Homo sapiens: one gene and its partners. The protein of the gene in region 4 interacts with the protein of the main gene of each other region in a pairwise test. Each region holds a gene or a part of one and is shown on either strand. Other genes may lie near its edges. The genes, in order: NRF1, RBM18, HINFP, NDUFAB1, EIF3B, SMYD3 and ZNF829.

The links.
Region 1: the proteins of NDUFAB1 (region 4) and NRF1 interact in binary tests that used the Homo sapiens proteins (3 or more experiments, as listed by UniProt).
Region 2: the proteins of NDUFAB1 (region 4) and RBM18 interact in a two-hybrid assay, tested with the Homo sapiens proteins (one large-scale study listed by BioGRID and IntAct).
Region 3: the proteins of NDUFAB1 (region 4) and HINFP interact in binary tests that used the Homo sapiens proteins (3 or more experiments, as listed by UniProt).
Region 5: the proteins of NDUFAB1 (region 4) and EIF3B interact in a two-hybrid assay, tested with the Homo sapiens proteins (one large-scale study listed by BioGRID).
Region 6: the proteins of NDUFAB1 (region 4) and SMYD3 interact in a two-hybrid assay, tested with the Homo sapiens proteins (one large-scale study listed by BioGRID and IntAct).
Region 7: the proteins of NDUFAB1 (region 4) and ZNF829 interact in binary tests that used the Homo sapiens proteins (3 or more experiments, as listed by UniProt).

What each region holds. Positions count from the first base shown.
Region 1 is NC_000007.14:129,705,720-129,709,219, forward strand, and holds part of NRF1 (nuclear respiratory factor 1), read left to right. Parts: intron 1-3,355; coding exon 3,356-3,500. UniProt on the Homo sapiens protein: Transcription factor that activates the expression of the EIF2S1 (EIF2-alpha) gene. Links the transcriptional modulation of key metabolic genes to cellular growth and development.
Region 2 is NC_000009.12:122,258,341-122,261,840, reverse strand, and holds part of RBM18 (probable RNA-binding protein 18), read left to right. Parts: intron 1-332; 5' UTR 333-348; coding exon 349-461; intron 462-3,500.
Region 3 is NC_000011.10:119,131,580-119,134,069, forward strand, and holds part of HINFP (histone H4 transcription factor), read left to right. Parts: coding exon 1-67; intron 68-250; coding exon 251-403; intron 404-663; exon of another isoform or gene 664-718; intron 719-916; coding exon 917-994; intron 995-1,081; coding exon 1,082-1,202; intron 1,203-1,284; coding exon 1,285-1,423; intron 1,424-1,515; coding exon 1,516-1,640; intron 1,641-2,364; coding exon of another isoform or gene 2,365-2,490. UniProt on the Homo sapiens protein: Transcriptional repressor that binds to the consensus sequence 5'-CGGACGTT-3' and to the RB1 promoter. Transcriptional activator that promotes histone H4 gene transcription at the G1/S phase transition in conjunction with NPAT.
Region 4 is NC_000016.10:23,586,317-23,589,816, reverse strand, and holds part of NDUFAB1 (acyl carrier protein, mitochondrial precursor), read left to right. Parts: intron 1-2,497; coding exon 2,498-2,620; intron 2,621-3,500. UniProt on the Homo sapiens protein: Carrier of the growing fatty acid chain in fatty acid biosynthesis.
Region 5 is NC_000007.14:2,364,827-2,368,326, reverse strand, and holds part of EIF3B (eukaryotic translation initiation factor 3 subunit B), read right to left. Parts: intron 2,011-3,500; coding exon 1,879-2,010; intron 1,803-1,878; coding exon 1,736-1,802; intron 1,394-1,735; coding exon of another isoform or gene 1,370-1,393; exon of another isoform or gene 1,355-1,369; intron 1,329-1,354; coding exon 1,282-1,328; intron 1-1,281.
Region 6 is NC_000001.11:245,926,780-245,930,279, reverse strand, and holds part of SMYD3 (histone-lysine N-methyltransferase SMYD3), read left to right. Parts: intron 1-342; coding exon 343-410; intron 411-727; exon of another isoform or gene 728-745; coding exon of another isoform or gene 746-768; intron 769-2,246; coding exon 2,247-2,349; intron 2,350-3,500. UniProt on the Homo sapiens protein: Histone methyltransferase. Specifically methylates 'Lys-4' of histone H3, inducing di- and tri-methylation, but not monomethylation. Also methylates 'Lys-5' of histone H4.
Region 7 is NC_000019.10:36,889,958-36,892,291, reverse strand, and holds part of ZNF829 (zinc finger protein 829), read left to right. Parts: coding exon 1-800; 3' UTR 801-2,334. UniProt on the Homo sapiens protein: May be involved in transcriptional regulation.

The DNA of each region.
Region 1 (3,500 bases), on a different chromosome or scaffold from region 4:
GGCCTGGGCAATGTAGGGAGACCCCTTCTCTACAAAAAGAAAAAAAAGAAAAGAAGGAAAAGTAAAGAAAAAAAATAGCTGGGCATGGTGGCATGCGCCTTTAGTCCCAACTACTGAAGGCTGAAACAGGAGGATCCCTTGAGCCCTGGAGGTTGAGGCTGCATTGAACTGTGATCATGCCACTGCACTCCAGCCTGGGCCACAGAGCAAGATCCGAGAGTGAGAGAGAGAGAGAGAGAGAATGAATGAATAGTTAGTATATGTTCCACAAAGAATGTAGGACTTTTCTGGGCACTAAAGAATGAGTGGCGGCATTAGAATAGTAGCATGGAAAATAGTCCAGCCAGGGGACAGAACAAAGGCAAAGAAGCGGGAATGGGCTTAGCAGCTCTTAAGACAGTGCAGAGATTTGTCTGATGGAGGACCAAGGCTGAGTGGTGGGAATTAATGGGAACTGACTGTAGTGTGAGGCCAGATTGTGGTGGGTCTGAAAAGCTGGGCAGAAGGATCTAGTTTAGTTGCCATAGTTAAAAGACATTTGGAGGTGTTTTGAGCATTGGAGCTATGTAGGTAACATTTAGGAAAACCTCTCAGGCAAGGATATGTGGGAAGAGGGAATGAAGGGAGAACTTGGAGTTTCCCAAGAAAGCCAACTAGAAGGATACACTAGCCTTGGGCCAAAAAATTAGAATAAAGGTGGGGCCGGAGAAGAAGGGATAGACACCAGAGACGTTTCAAAGAAAACAAAAGAACTGGACTTGCAATGTGTGACTAGGTAAGTGTTGAAGGAGAAAAGTAAAGATAACTTTGACATTTTTAGTTTGAGTGGCCGGGGAAAGGGTGGTTTTCTACTTGCTAAGATAAAAAAGTTGAGAAGACAAGTAGATTGGAGAGAGGGTAGGGTAGGAGTTTAAGTGAAGAGGCTGATGCTGAGCCCACCTTTCAAGTAACATTGAGTTATTGGAACTCAGTTGGAAGGCCTGGTGGGAGAGCCGAAGGAAGACTTGAGGGTGAAAGATATCCACGTCCAGGTGCCAACGTGACCCAGAACTGAGGAGCATAAGGAACTATTGGTGCAAATAGGGTGAGGCGTCAGAAGTGAAGCGATCACCAGAATTAGGGAATATAGAGGGTTCCAGGTGGATCTGAGCAGACTCTGTCAGTCTAGTATTCTCCACAGTGAGTGCTTTCTGATCACTTTAGGATTTCTGTTTTGTTTGTTTGGTTTAAGACAGGGTCTTGCTCTGTCACCCGCTTTAGGATTTTTGTTTTGTTTTGTTTTGTTTTGTTTTGAGACAAGGTCTCACTCTGTCACCCAGGCTGGAGTGAAGTGGCACCATCATGGCTCACTGCATCCTTGACCTCCTGAGCTCAAGCGATCCTCCTGCCTCAGCCTCTCTAGTAGCTGGGACTACAGGCACGTGCCACTGTAACCGACTGAGTTTTGTATTTTTGGTAGAGACAGAGTCCCACTGTGTTGCCCAAGCTGGTCTCAAACTCCTGGTCTCAAGCATTCTGCCTGCCTGAGCCTCCCAAGGTGCAGGGATTATAGGCATGAGCCACTGCACCCAACCCACTTTAGGATTTTGTTAATTTAGAATTATTTAGCCTTCTCATTTCATTTTCTCCAGACTCTCCTAGGTATGAATATAAAGAATTCTCCTTTTTGGAAACTGTTAATGGTATTCAAAGAAAAGGGAGTTTATGAAAGTCTATATCAATTTAATCTATACCTCTGAGAAAGCCATTTTTTTTAACATGAAGAAGTATAAAATATTGTGTGTGAAGATTAAGCCCTTTCTTGCTCTATGTATTTGAGCCTAGAAAAAGACACACTCCCAAGAAATTAGAATAAAGGGAAAAATGACTTTGAGATGTACTTTCTTAAAATAACTGAAGTAATGACCGCATGAGCCAGCTGATGGGTTTTTAAATGGATACGTTTCTATCAGCCTGCTGCTTGATGCCAGAGCCAAATATATATGGAGTGTATTATATCATATCCTGTAGGCAGGAGACTGTTGGGGCATTGGGGGACTTAGAGAGGTGAAGTGGCAGGCTTGGCACAGGAATTAACAGCATGGCTACCGTCAACCAGAACTTTATTAGGTCAACATTACTGATTGGGTTCATGGTTCCCTATTATGTAACAATTTGTATCATCTTCTCGTAAAATAATATCTAATATTTATTATAAGAATGATAAGAATACCTGATATTTATAGAAATCTTTAATATTAAAGTGTTGCTGTACTCATTCTCTCATTAATACTTAATTATTCTCATTTCTGTTTTTTCTTGTTTTACTTTGTAACTACAAATCCACACCCCCGAGTCTGATTCATTGCTAAAAGTGGCCTCTTTTTGGTTTTCAGCTGCAGGGGCAGTATGGGTGCATCCTTAGTTGCAGGATGCTACTTATATCTGGAGTGCTATAGACCACCAGGTTAAAAGGAAGACAGTAGGTCTGGGAAGGAGGAATAGATCATAAATTGATAAACTGCTTTTCTTGCCAGAAATCATTATCAGCGATTAAGAATATTCACAAAGTAGACCCTCCCCCAACACACACAGAGTGTGGTTACTATGCCAGGAAATAAGAATGGCAGTTGTCTTTGTGGTTTAAAACCTGTTTGGTCTGGATTTGATTTGTAAAATAAATCTGAATGAAGTCCATAATGCATTTAAATTCACACATGCTTTACTATGTCTATATGTCAGACTCATGGACAGTGGCCTAGCTTACTGGAAAATTTCTAGAAGAGTTTTAGGGTTATTTTCCCTTTTTATTAAGTTAAAGGCCTGTTTGTTTTCCTATATTTTATAATCAGCCACCTTATTGAATTCTCATTATTGTTTGTAGTAGTTTTTCATTTGATCTCTTTGGAATTCTCTAGATATAAGGTGACTTCATCTATAAATAATAATGATTTTATCAGCTCGCCTCTTATTTCTCTCTTATCTAATTGCATGGATTCCTACTTCCAGAACAGTGTTGAAAACACCCCGAGTTTGGCACCTTACATGCATGAAAACTGTAGAAGGGAAATAAGCTATAGTACCAGTAATATCTTGGGAAGCAGAAATTAAACTTAGGGGTAGATATTCTTACTCTTAGAGGAACAAGTCTACAAAATGCAGCCTAAGGTGCACTTTATCAACATATTTATAATTCTCAACCACCCATGGAGATATAGGAACCTATGGAAAACAGTGGGTTTTCATCAGTCACATCTTAGAATTCTCTGGGACCTTCCTGGAAACCTCTCTGTTTTATAAGGTTAGAATTTAAGGAGTCATAAACACACCCCAGATGTCTTTCATGAGTATTGATGACCACACTGTTCTCTTCCAGGCCCAGCTTCGGGCATTTATCCCAGAGATGCTCAAGTACTCTACAGGTCGGGGAAAACCAGGCTGGGGGAAAGAAAGCTGCAAGCCCATCTGGTGGCCTGAAGATATCCCCTGGGCAAATGTCCGGAGTGATGTCCGCACAGAAG
Region 2 (3,500 bases), on a different chromosome or scaffold from region 4:
TGGGTGACAGTTGTTGAACTGAAGTATCATGTAGTAATAGAGACTTTGGCCTCCTGCCCAGTCAGCCTCTGGCTTCAGAGGAGGAAAACTTTAGTTTCTCCACACAGAACCACGCCCCTTTCACCTTAAATGGCAGCTTGTGTGCCCTGGCTGCCAGAGCAGTTGTCCCAAGGGAACTGGTTCTGGGGCCCTGGTTGTGGAATCACTGAGGCCTTTGAAGGACTGCCCAGAGGGCATGCCCTCCTTGAATAAATGTTTGTTGAGTTGAATTTGAAGTCTTGTGTTCACACATTGTTACTCCCCTCCTGCCTGAATGTTCACATTTCCTTTAGTATTTCATAGACATTGATGGAAGCAGAAACCAAAACTCTTCCCCTGGAGAATGCATCCATCCTTTCAGAGGGCTCTCTGCAGGAAGGACACCGATTATGGATTGGCAACCTGGACCCCAAAATTACCGAGTAAGTCTAAGTTACCTTAGTTTTTTACCTACAATATTGGGATGTTTTGTGGTGATGATGTCAAGAAGAATTTTCAAGGGGTGTGGGATATACTTAGACCCTTTTACTTACATCGTGTCTTCGGAGAGATAAGATGTTGTTAGCCTGTTATCTTGTCACTTTTTTTACATTTGGACTCTGCTACTGCAAGGACACAGACTTGGGTATCCTTTAATCCATATACCTGTTTTTTTCCTATCTGCCAAAGACGTTCTCCCATTTCCAACTATTTGAATCCTTGTACCTAGTAGCTCTAGGGAATTATTCTCTAGAATCAGCCTTGGGAATACATTTGTACCCAGAATAAAGGAACAAGCAGAAGTCTCAGTACCTTTGCAAACAGGCAGAGGAGACCACTTGACTGTAATTCATATTAAGCAGCCATAGAACTATAGAAGGTCAGAGTTGTAAGGAACCTTAGAAATCATGTCCCTTTGGTTTTCATTCATTCATTAAATGATTTGAGTGCCAAGTGCCATGCTAAGCAGTTTGCAGACTTCTTAAATCTGAAGAACCCTGTCTTAGAGTAAAAGTAATAATCAGAGCTGTATATAAAATAAGAGCTCAGAGTTGCTCTGACTAAAAGGGAGAAGAGATGGAACCAAAATCTTTTGTCAACTACTACCCTTTCTTTGGCCATCCCTGTTTAGGCTCTGTAGAACTTCCAGGGCTCCATAGAGCACACTTGACAACCTCTGATGGGACCCAGCTTTTTTATCCTACATAGAGGAAACCAAGTCCCGAAAGACAGAAGTACCTTGCCCGAGTTCACGAAATTGATTGAATTGCCCTGACTCCCTGCTCTTTTACATCACAGCCATTAAGATGAAAAGGAATTTCTTAGCTGAGAAAATTGAGAGGTTTTTCCCTTCTGCCAGTTATTTGATAGAGGGAGGGTGGTGGTTGGTGGCAGAGTACAATGAGTGGATTGGCCTGTATGAGGTCAATGCTGAAAGCCAGTTTTTTTGTTTGTTTGTTTGTTTTTGTTTTTGTTTTTAAGACAGTCTTGCTCTGTTGCCCAGGCTGGAGTGTAGTTGCACAATCTTGGCTCACTGCAACCTCCACCTCCTGGGCTTAAGCAATTCTCATGCCTCAGCCTCCCGAGTAGTTGGGACTACAGGCATGCGCCACCATGCTGGCTGATTTTTGTGTTTTTAGTAGAAATGGGGTTTCACCATGTTGACCAGGCTGATCTCGAACTCCTTACCTCAAATGATCCACCCACCTTGGCCTCCCAAAGTGCTGGGATTACAGACTTAAGCCGCCATGCCAGGCAGAAAGCAAGTTTTGAGCATATCATCAGTCCTAGAAGTTACTCCCTTTAGAATAGTGTTAAAGACAAGGGGAGGCCGGGCACAGTGGCTCACGCCTATAATCCCAGCACTTTGGGAGGACGAGGCAGGCGAATCACTTGAGGTCAGGAGTTTGAGACCAGCCTGGCCAACATGGTGAAACCCCGTCTCTACTAAAAATGAAAAAATTAGCCAGGCATGGTGGTGCATGCCTGTAGTCCCAGCTACTTGGGAGGTTGAGGCGCGAAAATTGCTTGAACCTGGGAGGCGGAGGTTGCAGTGCACGGAGATTGTGCCACTGCACTCCAGCCTGGGCGAAAGGTGAAGGGAGGAGATGAGGAAACCTGCTTCTTTGAGTATGAGATGAGACAAGGTATATATGAGAGTTAAGATTAGGAAAGAGAAGAAAAGGATATAACCTTATAAATCAGGATTATAACAAAAAGTTCCTTAAACCTGCTCAAGCTCATATCAGCCAAATGTAAATATATTCAGTTCCCTTAGAAATTATGACGGTATTTAAGATGTGTTGCCCACATATTATGTTATCTTGGTCACAGGGACCCTAGAGTGGATTGCATTTATTTCAGTTCTCTTTTACGGTTCATGGCTTTTGAGGGTGAGTATATGAATCTGTCCAACCTCTCAATTAATGTCTCTTCATCAAAGAAATTTTTTCCATCATCCAAAACCCAGGCTATGAGGGGATGCTCATAGTGGTTTCCATTCCCACCTCTGCCTGTCTAAATGGAAATCTAAAGTGTGGAAACAGCGTTGGTTGTGTTGGCTGCACTTCTCTGTAATGAGACTTTTGTTCTAATTGTGTCCTGCTGCTTGACGGGAAGGTTCAAATGGGCATTTGCCACCTCAGTTTATGTCATAAGTTGGAGTGTGTGGATGTTTTTTTCAATTAGAACATTGGCAGGAACATTGAATCAGAACTTTCCCACTGATATCTCTGCTCTTTTTACATCAGGCCAGAGGTAGACATCAAGTAATAAACTAGATCAGAGCATGCTGGCTGGAAGTGCTGGGCTTTCCCTGTGGCTGGCTTCTCCACTTCTGTATCACAAAAGACCATTTTTATTATTTTTTCCTATAGATTCTTTTTTCTTCTTCTTCTTTTTTTTTTTTTTTTTTGACAGCTCTGTCACCCAGGCTTGAGTACAGTGGCACAATCATAGCTCATGGCAACCTAGAACTCCTGGGTAGCTGGGACTACAGGTGCTCGCCACCATGCCTGGCTAGTTTGTTGTTTTTTGTTTTTGTTTTGTAGAGACAGGGGTCTCAGTATGTTTCCTAGGCTGTTGTCAAACTCCTGGGCTTAAGCAATCCTCCTGATCAGCCTCCCAAAGTGTTGGGATTACAGGCGTGAGCCACTATGCCTGGCCATCCTATGGATTCTTTACCTTAAAACATTTTATCTGTCAAACAGACTGGTTTATTAAATTGTAATAAATTTATGCTTAAAGATATAACTACCACTGAGCACGGTGGTTCACACCTGTAATCCCAGCACTTTGGGAGGCCGAGGCGGGTGAATCACAAGGTTAGGAAATCGAGACCATCCTAGCCAATGTGGTGAAACCCCATTTCTACTAAAAATACAAAAATTATCCAGGCGTGGTGGCGGTTGCCTGTAGTCCTAACTACTCAGGAGGCTGAGGCAGGAGAATCACTTGAACCCGGAGGGCAGAGGTTGCAGTGA
Region 3 (2,490 bases), on a different chromosome or scaffold from region 4:
CACAGTCTGTGCTGTGAATACGAAGCAGTCGGCAAGGACAACCCGGTGGTGCTGTGTGGCTGGAAAGGTAGGGCTGCTTCTTAACTTGTGGCTTCTGGAGGAAACGCTGGGGTTCCTGAAGAGCTGGGACAGAAAGGGATAGGGGTCCTACAGGGGCAAGGTTGACTGCCGGCTGGAGAGACTCAGGGGTACCAGATCCTAGGCAAAACTGGGGTTTTGTGGCAGGAGACTGATAGGGCTTCCTTCCCAGGCTGTACCTGCACCTTCAAGGACCGCAGTAAACTTCGAGAGCACCTCCGCAGCCATACCCAGGAGAAAGTGGTAGCCTGCCCCACCTGTGGGGGCATGTTTGCCAACAATACCAAGTTCTTAGATCACATCCGTCGCCAGACCTCATTGGATCGTAAGTAGTCAGAGGAAGTGGGGTGGATGCAGGCTGTCCTGCTTGGAATGGGTTAGGGGCATGTTTCTAGTGGGGGTGGCCACTGAAGAGACCTGCCTTTTGGCTGCCTCTTCTTTTTGGGCTCAGGCACCTCCCATAGTCTCTTTGCTGATTCAGATTCGTAGGCATTGTTATTCAGTACTTACTGTACCTCGTATCAGTTACTTAGGGAATCCTCACAACAGCCCCATGAGGTAGGCTTCTTATCCCCCTTTTTGCAGATGAGGAAACTGAGGCTCAGAGAGGTTAAATCACTTACCTGAGATCACACAGCTAGTAAGTGGTGAAGCTGGAATTCTAACTCAGGTTCTCTAAGTCCCATGCTCTTTCCATGATACTGTGTCCATTCATAGCTCCCTAAGCTCTCCTTTTCTCCTTGGGTGGTTCCCTTCTGCCTGGGATGGTTCCCCTCTCCTTTCTGTGCCTCTCCACTATCACCTACAGCCCTCCTTTCTTCTGCCTGCCCCACCCCAGAGCAGCACTTCCAGTGTTCTCACTGTTCCAAGAGATTTGCCACAGAGCGGCTATTGCGGGACCACATGCGCAACCATGGTGAGTGGCCTGCGGCCCACAGCCTCCCTCCTGCCCTCCAAGGTTCCACAAGTTCTCACATCACAGCCTCCTCTCTGCTTCTCTCAGTGAATCACTATAAGTGCCCTCTGTGTGACATGACCTGCCCGCTGCCTTCCTCCCTCCGCAACCACATGCGCTTTCGTCACAGTGAGGACCGGCCCTTTAAATGTGACTGTTGTGACTACAGGTAAGGGGGACCAGGGACCAGAAAACAGCTCATGTTCCAGTGTTCCCCATGTCCTCCAATCCCTCCTGATTTCTCATGGCAGCTGCAAGAATCTTATTGACCTCCAGAAGCACCTGGATACCCACAGCGAGGAGCCAGCCTACAGGTGTGATTTTGAGAACTGCACCTTCAGTGCCCGATCCCTCTGCTCTATCAAGTCCCATTACCGCAAAGTACATGAAGTGAGTGGGGCTGGTGTTGGGAAGGACTAGTGGAAGTATGGGGGACCCTGGGGTGAAGAGCTGGTCTCATTTCTCCCTTCCTTCCCCATCAGGGAGACTCTGAGCCAAGGTACAAATGTCATGTGTGTGACAAATGCTTCACACGGGGCAACAACCTCACCGTGCACCTTCGCAAGAAGCACCAGTTCAAGTGGCCCTCAGGGCATCCCCGTTTTCGGTATGTCTCTCAACCCTCCTTCCCAGATTAACACACTTGTTTTTATACCTTTTCAACCAGTTTTAAAAACCTTAATTTGGGTCGGGCGCGGTGGCTCACGCCTGTAATCCCAGCACTTTGGGAGGCCAAGGTGGGCGGATCATGAGGTCAGGAGTTCGAGACCAGCCTGGCCAACATGGTGAAACCCCGTCTCTACTAAAAATACAAAAAGTAGCTGAGCATGGTGGCACATGCCTGTAGTCCCAGCTACTTGGGAGGCTGAGGTGGGAGAATCACTTGAACCCAGAAGGCGGAGGTTGTAGTGAGCTGAGATCATGCCACTGCACTCCAACCTGGGTGACAGAGCGAGACTCCATCTCAAAAATAAATAAATAAATAAATAAAACCTTAATTTGATGGTGGTTTTATGTCTGCCATTTCCATTTAGATTCAAAGAATCCTAAGAATAATGGTGGAGCAAAGCTTATTTTTCTGTTTTTTGAATCTTGTAAGGCATGGTGCCAAACCCAATAAATGGTGCCAAAAAGTCCTGCAGCTGGAACTAGAGCTAGAGTCTAAGGGTTCTGATCCTTAGCTCCAAGGCCTTCTCATAAATCCTTTGACACTTTCACCCTCCAACACAGTCAGTCAGTCTCTGTTTTTCTGGTTGGGTTTCTATATAAAACTTTCCATTTTGAGTAATGATCTTTCCCTCTTGCCTTTTCTTCTACATATTCCAATAAAGACCTTTTTTGTCTTCAACTCCTGTCACTTGGATTCCAGGACTTCTTCCATCCCTCATGTTTGTTCCTTACTTTGCCAGCCTCGGCCATTTCTGTATCCCCCTGCCTGGGTTTGCTGCCCTTTATGC
Region 4 (3,500 bases):
TTATAGGCACACGCCACGATGCCCGGCTAATTTTTGGACTTTCAGTAGAGATGGAGGTTTCACTGTGTTGGGCAGGCTGGTCTTAAACTCCTGACCTCAAGAGATCCGCCCACCTTGGCCTCCCAAAGTGCTGGGATTACAGGCGTGAGCCACCACACCTGGCCTCGTACCATTTCTTGATAAGCACACAGCCTCTGTTAGATCCCTCCAACTGAAATTTCTTTTCTGCCATTGCCATATTACCTCATTTCTTCTCCCCCTTTCTCTTTATTCCTTTCTTCTCCATTTTATTTGTGACTTGGAAACCTATTTGAGTCATTGTTAAGTAGGCCGGTCATGTGCCTGTATAAAAGGTCTCCTTAACCCATGTATAATACGAAAGGAGACTAGACATTTAGACAAAGAAACATGCTCTAAAACTCTTGAAAGTACTCAGAAAGGCTCGTTAGAATATCTATCATACTCTCCAACTCATCTCTTTAGTTTGCTGATTAAACCTGATTTTTTTTTTTTTTTTCTTGAGACGGAATCTCACTCTGTCACCCATGCTGGAGTGTAAATGGCATGATCTTGGCTCACTGCAACCTCCGACTCCCAAGTTCAAGCGATTCTTCTGCTTCAGCCTCCTGAGTAGATGGGATTACAGGCACATGTTACCACGCCCAGCTAACTTATATTTTTGGTAGAGACGGGGTTTCTCCATGTTGGTCAGGCTAGTGTCGAACTCCTGACCTCGTGATCCGCCTGCTTCGGCTTCCCAAAGTGTGGCAATTACAGGTGTGAGCCACTGCGCCCAGCCTAAACCTGATTTTAATAACTGACTTCTTTTTCTTTTCTTTTTTGAGACAGAGTCTCGCTCTGTGGCCCAAGGTGGAGTGCAGTGGCACAGTCTCGGCTCACTGCAACCTCTGTCTGGGTTCAAGCAATTCTCATGCCTCAGCTACCTGAATAGCTGGGATTACAGGCACACACCACCACGCCCAGCTAATTTTTGTATTTTTAGTAGAGACGAGGCTTCACCATGTTGGCCAGGCTGGTCTCGAACTCCTGGCCTCAAGTGATTGGCTCACCTCGGCCTCCCAAAGTGCTGGGATTACAGGTGTGAGACACACATCGGCCCAATACCTGTTCTTTATGCAAGATGAATGTTTCTTCTACAGAGGTTATACTGGTTTGGTTCTCTGGGCAGTATTTATTATGATTTTTCATGGACCTTTGTGAGTTTCAGGGACCTGAGCCCTAACAAGCAGCCCCACTTTCTATAGGGAAATGCCTGAAGAACGCCAAGCCTCGGACTTAAAATCAACTTCAGGAGGTAAACAAACCAATTTAGATTAGGGATTTCTTTCTTTTTCTTTTTTTTGAGACGGAGTCTTGCTTTGTCGCCCAGGCTGGAATGCAATGGCGCAGGCTCGGCTCACTGCAACCTCTCCTCCCACATTCAAGCGATTCTCCTTCCTCAGTCTCCTGAGTAGCTGGGATTACAGGCGCCCACCACCACGCCTGGCTAATTTTTGTATTTTTAGTAGAGACGGGGTTTCACCATGTTGGCCAGGCTGGTCTCGAACTCCTGACCTCAGGTGATCTGCTCACCGTGGCCTCCCAAAGTGTTGTGATTATAGGCGTGAGCCACCACGACTAGCCAGATTAGGGATTTCAGTAGTGAGCAAAACTGCCAGATACCCTGTTTTGTTTTCTCTGATTCTGCGTCGTACCTTCCACAGCATTAAACCCCCTGACCTGTAATTGCAGCTCATTCCACATTTGTTGAATGAAATCTGGTCAATACCCTAATACCTAAACATTGAGCCGACTAATACCAGAGATACGTGAGGTATTGCTCTAACATGGCACAGGCCAGAAGGGCTCATGGTTTGGCTGGTGGCCATGAGGCAAGCCTCGCTGGAAGGGAAACAGATTGGAATGTAGTGACTGTAAGCTCCCTCATCCCCTCTTTGGGTGGGAGGCCAGCTTCCTTTGTCCTGGCTGAGATCAGGGAGATAACTGCTGGAACCAAACTAGACCTTTCTGGTGTATGGTCCTCAATTTGAATTGCCTTTGGGTTTACCATGACAGCTCTTTCCTTTTGGGTTATTTTGACTTGGGTCAGCCTATTAAAGGTGGCAGCACCCTGTAGAGGCCTCGGGATGCTGAAGATGCCATGAGAAGACACAGGCATTCTGCAGACGCTAGACAATTTTAGTGGCAGTTAGTGTCGCAGAGCAGTATGAATGTCCAGAGCCTGAGGGTTGAAGCCAGGAGGCAGAGGGGCCGGTCCTGACTCCCAGGAAGGAGGCCTGAGATGCTGCTGAACTGTTGGGGCTTCTGCGATTACCCAGTCCTGCAACTTAGTGTGTCCTGGTGGCCACAATGAGAATCAGATGCTGTGGGTTCTCTAAAGCCCCGAAAGTTCTGTGAAAGTTACCTATAGGCTTGTGCATTGATTTAGAGGTATTTTCCATTCAATGACAGTGTTTCCTTCCTGCCGTCGCTCTAGGTTCCTGGTAGAGTTACACAGTTGTGCCGCCAGTATAGCGACATGCCTCCTTTGACGTTAGAGGGCATCCAGGACCGTGTTCTTTACGTATTGAAACTCTATGACAAGATTGACCCAGAGAAGGTAACTGATGGTGGTTTGAATTTTTTTCTTTAAATATAGAGTATTTAATTACATGCTAGAAAATGCAAAGGGAAAGATACTCAGTAAAAATCTCCCTGGCTCCCAGACACCCAGGCCCATTCTGGGAGATAGCCAGCGCTACCAGTTTCATGTATGTTTCCAAAGGTACTCAATGCATATGTTAAAGAAGTATACACACGTGTGTATATTATATGTATGTATCTCTCACCCTTTTTAAAAAACACAACTGGCCGGGCACTGTGGCTCATGCCTGTAATCCCAGCACTTTGGGAGGCCGAGGCGGGCGGATCACCTGAGGTCGGGAATTCAAGACCAGCCTGACTAACATGTAGAAACTTCATCTCTACTAAAAATACAAAATTAGCCGGGCATGGTGGCACATACCTGTAATCCCAGCTACTCGGGAGGCTGAGGCAGCAGAATCACTTGAACCCGGGAGGTGGAGGTTGCAGTGAGCCGAGATAGCGTGATTGCAGTCCAGCCTAGGCAACAAGAGTGAAACTCCATCTCAAAAATAATAATAAATAATAAAAACACAAGTGGGGCCGGGCGTGGTAGCTCACGCCTGTAATCCCAGCACTTTGGGAGGCCGAGGCGAGTGGATCATGAGGTCAGGAAATGAAGAGCAGCCTGGCCAAGATGGTGAAACCCCATCTCTACTAAAAATACACAAATTAGACAGGCGTGGTGGCAGACACCTGTAATCCCAGCCACTCGGGAGGATGAGGCAGAGAATTGCTTGAACCCGGGAGGGAGAGGGTGCAGTGAGCCGAGATCATGCCACTGCACACTGCAGCCTGGATGACAGGGTGAAACTCCATCTAACAACGAAAAAAAATTGAATCTGTTGTGTAGGTAA
Region 5 (3,500 bases), on a different chromosome or scaffold from region 4:
TAAAATATACAAAAAATTAGCTGGGCGTAGTGGTTGCGCGCCTGTAATTCCAGCTACTCAGGAGACTGAAGCACCAGAATCGTTTGAACCTGGGAGGTGAAGGCTGCAGTCAGCCGAGATCACGCCACTGTACTCCAGCCTGGGCAACAGAGTAAGACTCTGTCTCAAAAAAGATTTAAAAATGGCTGGGTGTGGTGGCTCACGCCAGTAATCCCAGCACTTTGGGAGGCTGAGGTGGGCAGATCACTTGAGGTCAGGAGTTCTGAGACCAGCATGGCCAACACAGTGAAACCCCATCTCTACTAAAAATACAAAAATTAGCTAGGCATGGTGGCAGGCACCTGCAGTCCCAGCTACTTGGGAGTCTAAGGCAAGGAGAATCACTTGAACCCAGGAGGTGGAAATTGCAGTGAGCCAAGATCTCGCCACTCTACACCAGCCTGCAAGACAGAGTAAGACTCTGCCTCAAAAAAAAAAAAAAAAAAAAAAAAAAAAAAAAAATTTTAAAAAAAGAACAAACTCACCGTTTTCTCTCCAACTGGTTAAGAACTGAGTGACAGGCTGGGCATGGTGGCTCACGCCTGTAATCTCAGCACTTTGGGAGGCTGAGGCGGGCAGATCACAAGGTCAGGAGTTTGAGACCAGCCCAGCCAACATGGTGAAACCCCATCCCTACTAAAAATACAAAAATTAGCCGGGCTTGGTGGCACATGCCTGTAGTCCCAGCTACTCGGGAGGTTGAGGCAGAAGAATCACTTGAACCCAGGAGGTGGAGGTTGCAGCGAGCCAAGATCGTATCACTGCACTCCAGCCTGACGGAGCGAGACTCTGTCTCTAACAACAACAACAAAAAGCTGAGTGCTAAAGGAGAGACAGCAAATAAAGGAAACCAACTGCAATGGACCACGTCTGTGTCCCCCAGATTCACAGGGTGAAATTCTAACCCCCTGGGGTGACGGCATGGGGTGGGGCCTTTTGGGGGGTGGGAGGTCCTGAGGGGGAAGCCCTTGGGAATGAGATGAGAGACTTTACAGAACAGGCCACGGAGGCCTTCCTCCAGGGAAGGCTGGACCGAGGGGCTGTCCACTAGGAGGGAGGTGGGCCGTCACCAGACAGTCTGCAGGCACCCTGACCTCAAGCTCCCAAGCTCCAGAACTGGGAGAAAGAAATCTCAGCTGTCATAAGCCACCCAGCCTATGGTATTGTGTTTTTTTTTTTTTTTTTGGTATTGTGTTAAGCAGCCTGAACACACTAAGACACCAAACTGATAAGAATACTCACTTTATCCCAGAGATCTTCAAACTCTTCTTGTCCAAAAGACCCATAGACTGCCCAAAAAAAAGGAAGGCTGCAGTTGAGTCAAATCATGTCAGTGTCTCAGAAACACACCTAACTTTTTACAAAAGGAAACAAGAGTCTGATGTGAGTTTGCCTAGGGGGCAGTGCACACAGAGCGTGACAGTGAACCCATCCACCCACCCGCCACCCAGAACTGCAGTTCTGAAGCCCACTGCATTAACTCCCATCCAGGACTTCCCACGGCTGCGCCAGGTGGGCAGGAGTGACTGAAGAGCTCTGCCCAGAGCAGGGGCAGTTAAAAAGGCACAGGAGACAGGCCTTTCCTATGCATCTGTGAAACCTCCTCCTCCTCTTCTAGCACAAATAAGGAAAGGCACCACACCCCGGTTACAAGCAAGGACCGGACGGGGCGTTTGCCATCACTGAGGCCACTTACAGGAGTTTCATAGATGCTAAGCGTATCCAGGGTCATTCTGGCAAAGAATTTGCCATCATGGCTCCACCTAAGAAAAACAAAAGTGCCAGGGTATTCCCATGAAAAGACAAAGGCTACAGAGCTCGTTACAATGGTCCACTTACTTAAAAATAGGCCAATGGGCTGAGCTCTCACAGTGAAAACCCCTCTTCTTGTGCCCCGTAAGGATGTCCCAGATGATTATGGCCTGAGGGTCATCCTGCGTGTCCATCAGGGGGCTAAAGGTCACCAGGTACCTAGAAGAGAAGGGCAACACTGTACACTATCCTCCTCTCACGAGAGGATCACAGTCTGTCTGTGCGGCCAGAACACGCCGTCAGAACTCGCGGAACCAGCTCTCTCCCCAAACCCCACACTGCCCGGCCCCAAGAGACCCAAGCGGAAGCGGGAAGCAGCGGCGCTTGTTCATTCTGGTGTCAATACGCTGCAGGCGCTCCGGTTTCTCCAAGATCAGCACAGAAGATCTCACCGATCCCACACAAGGCTGCTAAGTGATCCAGAGGGTGGCGCAGTGTGGAACTCTATCTTTACCCATGTTTAATAAAGACTAACAAGTTAAAAAAATACGGCTGGGCGCAGTGGCTCACACCTGTAATCCCAGCACTTTGGGAGGCCGAGGTGGGTGGATCACCCAAGGTCCGGAGTTTAAGACAAGCTTGGCCAACCATGGCCGACATGGTGAGACCCTGTCTCTACTAAAAATACAAAAATTAGCCGGGCGTGGTGGCAGGCACTTGTAATCCCAGCTACTCAGGAGGCTGAGGCAGGAGAATAGCTTGAACCCGGGAGGTGGAGGTTGCAGTGAACTGGTATCGTGCCACTACATTCCAGTCTGGGCGACGCATGAAACTCAGTTTCAAAAAAAAAAAAAACAAAACAAACAAACAAACAAACAAACAAAAAAACAAGTCCCATCCAGTTCGAAAGCCAGCACAGGTCTGATAGAAACTTCAGAGCCTGGGGGCTCCTCCCAGCCATGATTTACCTGACTGCTGGCTTGTCTGGAGCTACTGCACCTGCTTACTCAGTTCACACAAAGTGTGTAACAGACGGTCCCTTACAACACCAGAGGGGAAGGCAGACACAACCCATGAGGGCGAAAACAGAGCGGCCCCAGCTCGCCTCGCACTGCCTTCCACAACTGCCCCTTTCCCTAGAGTGGCCCCCGTTCGCCTCACACTGCCTTCCACAACTGTCCCTTTCCCTAGAGTGGCCCCAGCTCGCCTCACACTGCCTCCCACAACCGCCCCTTTCCCTAGCAGGCCTCCGACAGCCGGATTAGCTAGATCAAAAATCACGGCTCGGCCAGGTGCGGTGGCTCACGCCTGTAATCCCAGCACTCTGGGAGGTCAAGGCAGGAGATCACTTGAGCCCAGGGGTTCAAGACTACCTTGTACAACAAAGTGAGACCCCCATCTCTACAAAAAATAAAATTAGCCATATGTCATGGCGTGTGCCTGCGGTCCCCGCTACTCAGGAAGGCTGAGGTGGGAGAACCGCTTGACCTGGGAGGCTGGGGTTGCAATGAGCCTGCAATGGTGCCACTGGGTGGCGCCAAGCCTGGGTGATAGAGGAAGGACAATTTATTATCTGTAAAATACGTGACCTTAGACTAGATCCTGAACTGAAGGAAAGTAAGTATTATACAGAACATTATTAGGTCAAGTAACAAAATCAGAATATGGCAATACATTGAAGTATTAAATGAATGGTAAATCCCTGAAGT
Region 6 (3,500 bases), on a different chromosome or scaffold from region 4:
AGCTTATTCATATTCTGGATTTTGAACAGTTCATGTAACTGTAACTTTGGGGTAGTGGATAATGAGACTGAAATTAATGGTTCCTCTGCTGGTTTCCGTCTGTTTTTTTTTTTTTTCTCCCAGGAGGTTGGTATTTCTGCACTTAACCACCTGATGTTTTTAGGGGGAGTATATCCCAGATAAATTCTGTTGTAAGTCAAAGAGCATCCATGATTGGCTTGGCTCTTTCTTAAGCAACTACTAAGATGCTCCTACATTTGGGTTTGAACGTTTTTTATTCTCTTGGCTATGAAGTTTCTTAAGTGACTCTAGTAATACTGATGGTTCCCCTTGTGTTTACAGGTGATCTGCAACTCTTTCACCATCTGTAATGCGGAGATGCAGGAAGTTGGTGTTGGCCTATATCCCAGGTATGGTGTATGGTACTTCATGTACTGGAAGACACACTTTCATTCCCACCCAAATCCCCAGCCCTTTGGAGGTAGTTAGAAAGGCAGTTGCTGCAGCTTGTTCAAGAGCCAAGCTTAAAACTTAGCAATAAATTACAAAAAAATGGAAAATGTTAAGTTGAAAGAAAACAGTTTTATAACCCCACATTATATGCTGTGATATTAACAAAGGGGCAGATCTCAGAACTAAACTCTTGTTCTCAGGGGGACTTTGGGTGAAGAAGTTGAGGACGGTGGGTGCTAATTAACCATCGGGCTGATTTTTGGTTATTCCCCAGTTTCCTGAGCTGCAGCACATGCTGATTTCACCGGACTTGCCGTACGTATCAGTTGGGTTCATGTTGTCTTTCGAGTTGGCACACTCTGAGCCCTTTCACTCAAGGAGGCAAGAAAACTCTCAGGCTTTGGCCCCTGAATGCTCTCTCCAGCTATTGCTGAGCTGACTCTTACCACTGAGCTATGAAACCGTCTCTCCACAAGCACTATAGGCACACCCAGTTTCATTTTGTTTTTATGCCATAAGAGTCCAAATACAAATTTAGACTTTCTAATAATTGTGAATCTAAGAATTCAGCCTTTTTTCTTATTTCTCACAATTGTCATTAACTGTAGGTCAGGTCTACTGGTAGGTGGTTCTCAAAAGGCAGTAACATAGGATGATTCAAAGCATGGGCTCTGCGTTCAGGCCACCTGGTCCAAATTCCATCACCACTTACTAGCTGTATGTCCTTGAGCAAGTCATTTAATTTCTGTGCATCAGTCTCTTTACCTGTAAATGATCCTCATAAGATTGTTGTGAGGATTAAATGTGATGAACATGCTCAAGTGCAAGAAAGTGTTTCTACATAGTAAGTGCTCATTCTAATTATTACCAATTCCTGATAGCAGCTTAAATCCATTTTGTTTCCCAGATGGTAAGAAATGTCCCTCCAAGGTAATAAAATGACTGGACCATGGCCCAGGATGCATCAGGATGTAGGTGGCAAAATAACGTCAGCTCTCTATTTAAGAGCAAATAGTCCTAATTATTTTTCAGTGTGGATGTTCTAGCAAAGGCGGCCATTTCTCCAAAGGAGCTCAACAAATGAGATCCTATGGGAGAGGTCAGTGGTATCTTGGCTGCTGCATCCCATTATGTCTGAGTATTTTTTTTTTTTGAGATGGAGTCTCACTCTGTCACCCAGGCTGGAGTGCAGTGGTGCGATCTCGGCTCACTGCAACCTCCGCCTCCTGGGTTCAAGCGATTCTCCTGCCTCCACCTCCTGAGTAGCTAGGACTACAGGCATGTGCCACCACACCCAGCTAATTTTTTTGTATTTTTAGTAGGGACAGGGTTTCACCATGCTGATCAGGCTGGTCTCAAACTGCTGGCCTCAAATGATCCACCCACCTCGGCTTCCTAAAGTCCTAGGATTACAGGCGTGAGCCACCACACCCAGCTGTCTAAGTATTTCTTTCTGAGTCAGTTTCTTTCTGACCTTCGTGTTGGGTTGCCTTATTGACTGTTATCTAATCAGTCAACTATGCCCCAATCCCCAAAAAGGACTCAGGAAATTTTTTTATTATTAAATGACGGAATTCCCTAGTTAGCCTGCATCTTGAGGAGAATTGCACTTCGTGGGAGGTGTGCTAGTGACATTTCTGTGAATGCATCCCCGAGTACTGAACCCCTGGCATCCTGTCAACCCTACCTGCTGCTGCCCCCCAAAGGAAGGTGTATTTTACCCACTGCATTTGTTAAATTTAGTTGACTCTACCTGCTGAGCTGTGACAGTCTTCCCCCCTTTTTTTTTCCAGTATCTCTTTGCTCAATCACAGCTGTGACCCCAACTGTTCGATTGTGTTCAATGGGCCCCACCTCTTACTGCGAGCAGTCCGAGACATCGAGGTGGGAGAGGAGGTAAGGAAACTCATGCTTCCCAGCCTGGCCTTCTTTCCTATCAAAGACCCTCTCAGCTCGGCCCGTCCCTAAAACTGATTGTGCCTGAGGGGACAACTTTTCATTGTCCTTCTGCCAGTGAGAGTATTTGTAGTTCAGTCACCTCTCCCCAGCAACCTATCCTTTCTTCTCCCAAATTACAAATGGGCTAATTTTTTAGGGGAGAGGTCACCATATTTCTGGATGATGACAGTTCCTGTCCTGTGTGTGAGAGAGAGAGGAGTTTGTGTATGACAGAGGGTGTGTGTTTTATGCACACACAGGGAATTCATGAAATCTCCTCAGTGGCAACAGCTGAGCAGCCTCTCATATCCTTCCGTGGGCAGGGGGGGGCATCCCAGCTTGTGAGTGGGATCCCCAAGACTTCTTCACTCGGAAGGCCACTGGCTACATTGAAGGTAATGATGCATGTTAACTTTGTGCTAGTAAAGCAAACAGCTTATACTGTCTCAGGCTGACATTGGGACTTGACAAACCCATCAGCATCTCTGGGTGATCATTTCAGCAAAGATGCAAAGGGAATAGAGGACAGGGAGGATGACCTCCAGCAGTGAACTGGCCTTGACCCCTCCAGTTTGACAGACTGTCCAGCCAGCCTCTTTTGGTGCAGAACCTTCTTACAAGACAGCTGCAAACGGGCTGCTCCAGGGCTCTGAACCTAAGCTTGCACTGGTTTGCACAGTGACTACCCATGCTGAGTTCTGAGTTACAGATATTTCTACTTTCCAGAACCCCGTTTCCTTCTCCTTTCCAATTTGCTAAAGTGGATATTTATTGCAAGGAAAACAGTACTGAAAGCTTTTATTGCATTTATGCAGCACTCAGCCAATAAAACCTCAACTCAGAGGTACCATATTTTATGTAGACAGGGATTTGGCTTTGACAAGATTCTCCCCAAACTGATTTTCAGTGGAAGGAGCCACTTCTTATACAACTACTCGCTAAATTTCCAGATTTTAGGACCAGTGTATGAAATATACTGGGATAGATGTCAGTGAGATGGACAATGTAGTTTTTTCTCTTTTTTTTCTGGGGCCGCAAAGGACTTCAAGGCAGGTAAGAGATGAAACCGCTATCTATTTTCAGCAATATTCATTTGGGGGCTGAAGAGC
Region 7 (2,334 bases), on a different chromosome or scaffold from region 4:
AAAACTCACAATTTATCCAACATCAGAGAATTCATTTTGGTGAAAAACACTATGAATCTAAGGAGTATGGGAAGTCCTTTAGTCGTGGCTCACTCGTTACTCGACATCAGAGGATTCACACTGGTAAAAAACCCTATGAATGTAAGGAATGTGGCAAGGCTTTTAGTTGTAGTTCATATTTTTCTCAACATCAGAGGATTCACACTGGTGAGAAACCCTATGAATGTAAGGAATGTGGAAAAGCCTTTAAGTATTGCTCAAACCTTAATGATCATCAGAGAATTCACACTGGTGAGAAACCCTATGAATGTAAAGTATGTGGAAAAGCCTTTACTAAAAGTTCACAACTTTTTCTACATCTGAGAATTCATACTGGTGAGAAACCTTATGAATGTAAAGAATGTGGGAAAGCCTTTACTCAACACTCAAGGCTTATTCAGCATCAGAGAATGCATACTGGTGAGAAACCTTATGAATGTAAGCAGTGTGGGAAGGCCTTTAATAGTGCCTCAACACTTACTAACCATCACAGAATTCATGCTGGTGAGAAGCTCTATGAATGTGAAGAATGTAGAAAGGCCTTTATTCAGAGCTCAGAACTTATTCAACATCAGAGAATCCATACAGATGAAAAACCATATGAATGTAATGAATGTGGGAAGGCCTTTAATAAAGGCTCAAATCTTACTCGACATCAGAGAATTCACACTGGTGAGAAACCCTATGACTGTAAGGAATGTGGAAAGGCTTTTGGTAGTCGCTCTGACCTCATTCGCCATGAGGGAATTCATACTGGTTGAATGACAGTAAAGTAAGACCATTTTGTTAACCTTTATAATAATTTTTTTAAAACAGGTAAGGAGAACAAATTAGGATACATATTATCAAAGGTTCTCCTATGTATTCGTTTTTAAACGATACGATAACAAAGTACCAAGTACCAAAACCTTGGTGGCTTAAAACAAGAGAAATTTATTCTCTCATAGTTTAGAGCCTGGAAATCTAAACTCAAGGGTGCTGATCGTTTTGGTTCCTTCTGAGGACTCTGAGGATCTGTTCTATGCCTTTTTCCTAACCTCTGTTAACAGCTGGCAGTCCTTGGCATTCCATGGCTTTTACATACACCATTCCAATCTCTGCCTCCATCTTCACATTGCATTCTCGCTGTGTATCTCTGTGTATGTCTTTTATTTGGACACCAGTCAGGTTAGATTGGGGTTACCTGGTGACCTCATCTTAACTTGATTATATCTGCCAAGACCCTGTTTCCAAGTAAGGTCACATTTACCGGTACCAGGGGTTAGGACTTCAGCATATCTTTTTAGGGGATACAGTTCAACCCATAATACCCTGTTAGAATGATTTTGTCTAATATATTTGTAATTTCCTTTTATACATAAGTTGTTAGTCAAATTTATTTTATTTTATTTTATTTTGAGACAGAGTCTCGCTCTGTTGCCCAGGCTGGAGTGCAGTGGTGTGATCTCAGCTCACTGCAACCTCCAGCTCCTGAGTTCAAGCGATTCTTGTGCCTCAGCCTCTCAAGTAGTTGGGATTACAGGCATGCGCCACCATGCCCGGCTAATTTTTTTTTTTTTTTTTTTTGTATTTTTAGTAGCGACGGGGTTTCACCATGTTGGCCAGGCTGGTCTTGAACTCCTGACTTCAAGTGATCTGCCCGCCTCAGCCTCCCAAAGTGCTGGGATTACAGACGTGAGCCACCGTGATGGCCAAAACAGACTTTATACCAACAAAAATTAAAAAGGACAAAGAAGGTCATTTATAATGATAAAGGATAAATTCAACAAGAAGATAAAACAATCCTAAATATGTATGCACCCAACACTGCAACACCCAGATCCATAACACAGATACTACTAGACCTAAGAAAAGAGATAGACAGCAATACAACAATAGCAGGGGACTTCACCACTCCATTGACAGCACTAGACAGATCACTGGGACAGAAATCAACAAAGAAACTCTGGACTTAAATTGGACTCTACACCAAATGGACCCAACAGACATCTGAAGAACATTCTACCCAACAACCACAGAATATATACTCTTCTCTTCTGTGCATGGAACATTCTCAAAAATAGGTCATATACTGGACCACAAAGCAAGTATCAATAAATTTTAAAAAAACAAAATCATATCTAACATCTTCTCTGACCATAGTGGAATAAAACTAGATATCAATACCAAGAGGAACTCTCAAAACAGATACATGGAATTTAAACAGCTTGCTCCTGAATGATTTTTGGATCAATGATGAAACTAAGGTGGAAATTTAAAATTTTTTGAAATAAATGAAAATAGAGACAAAACACA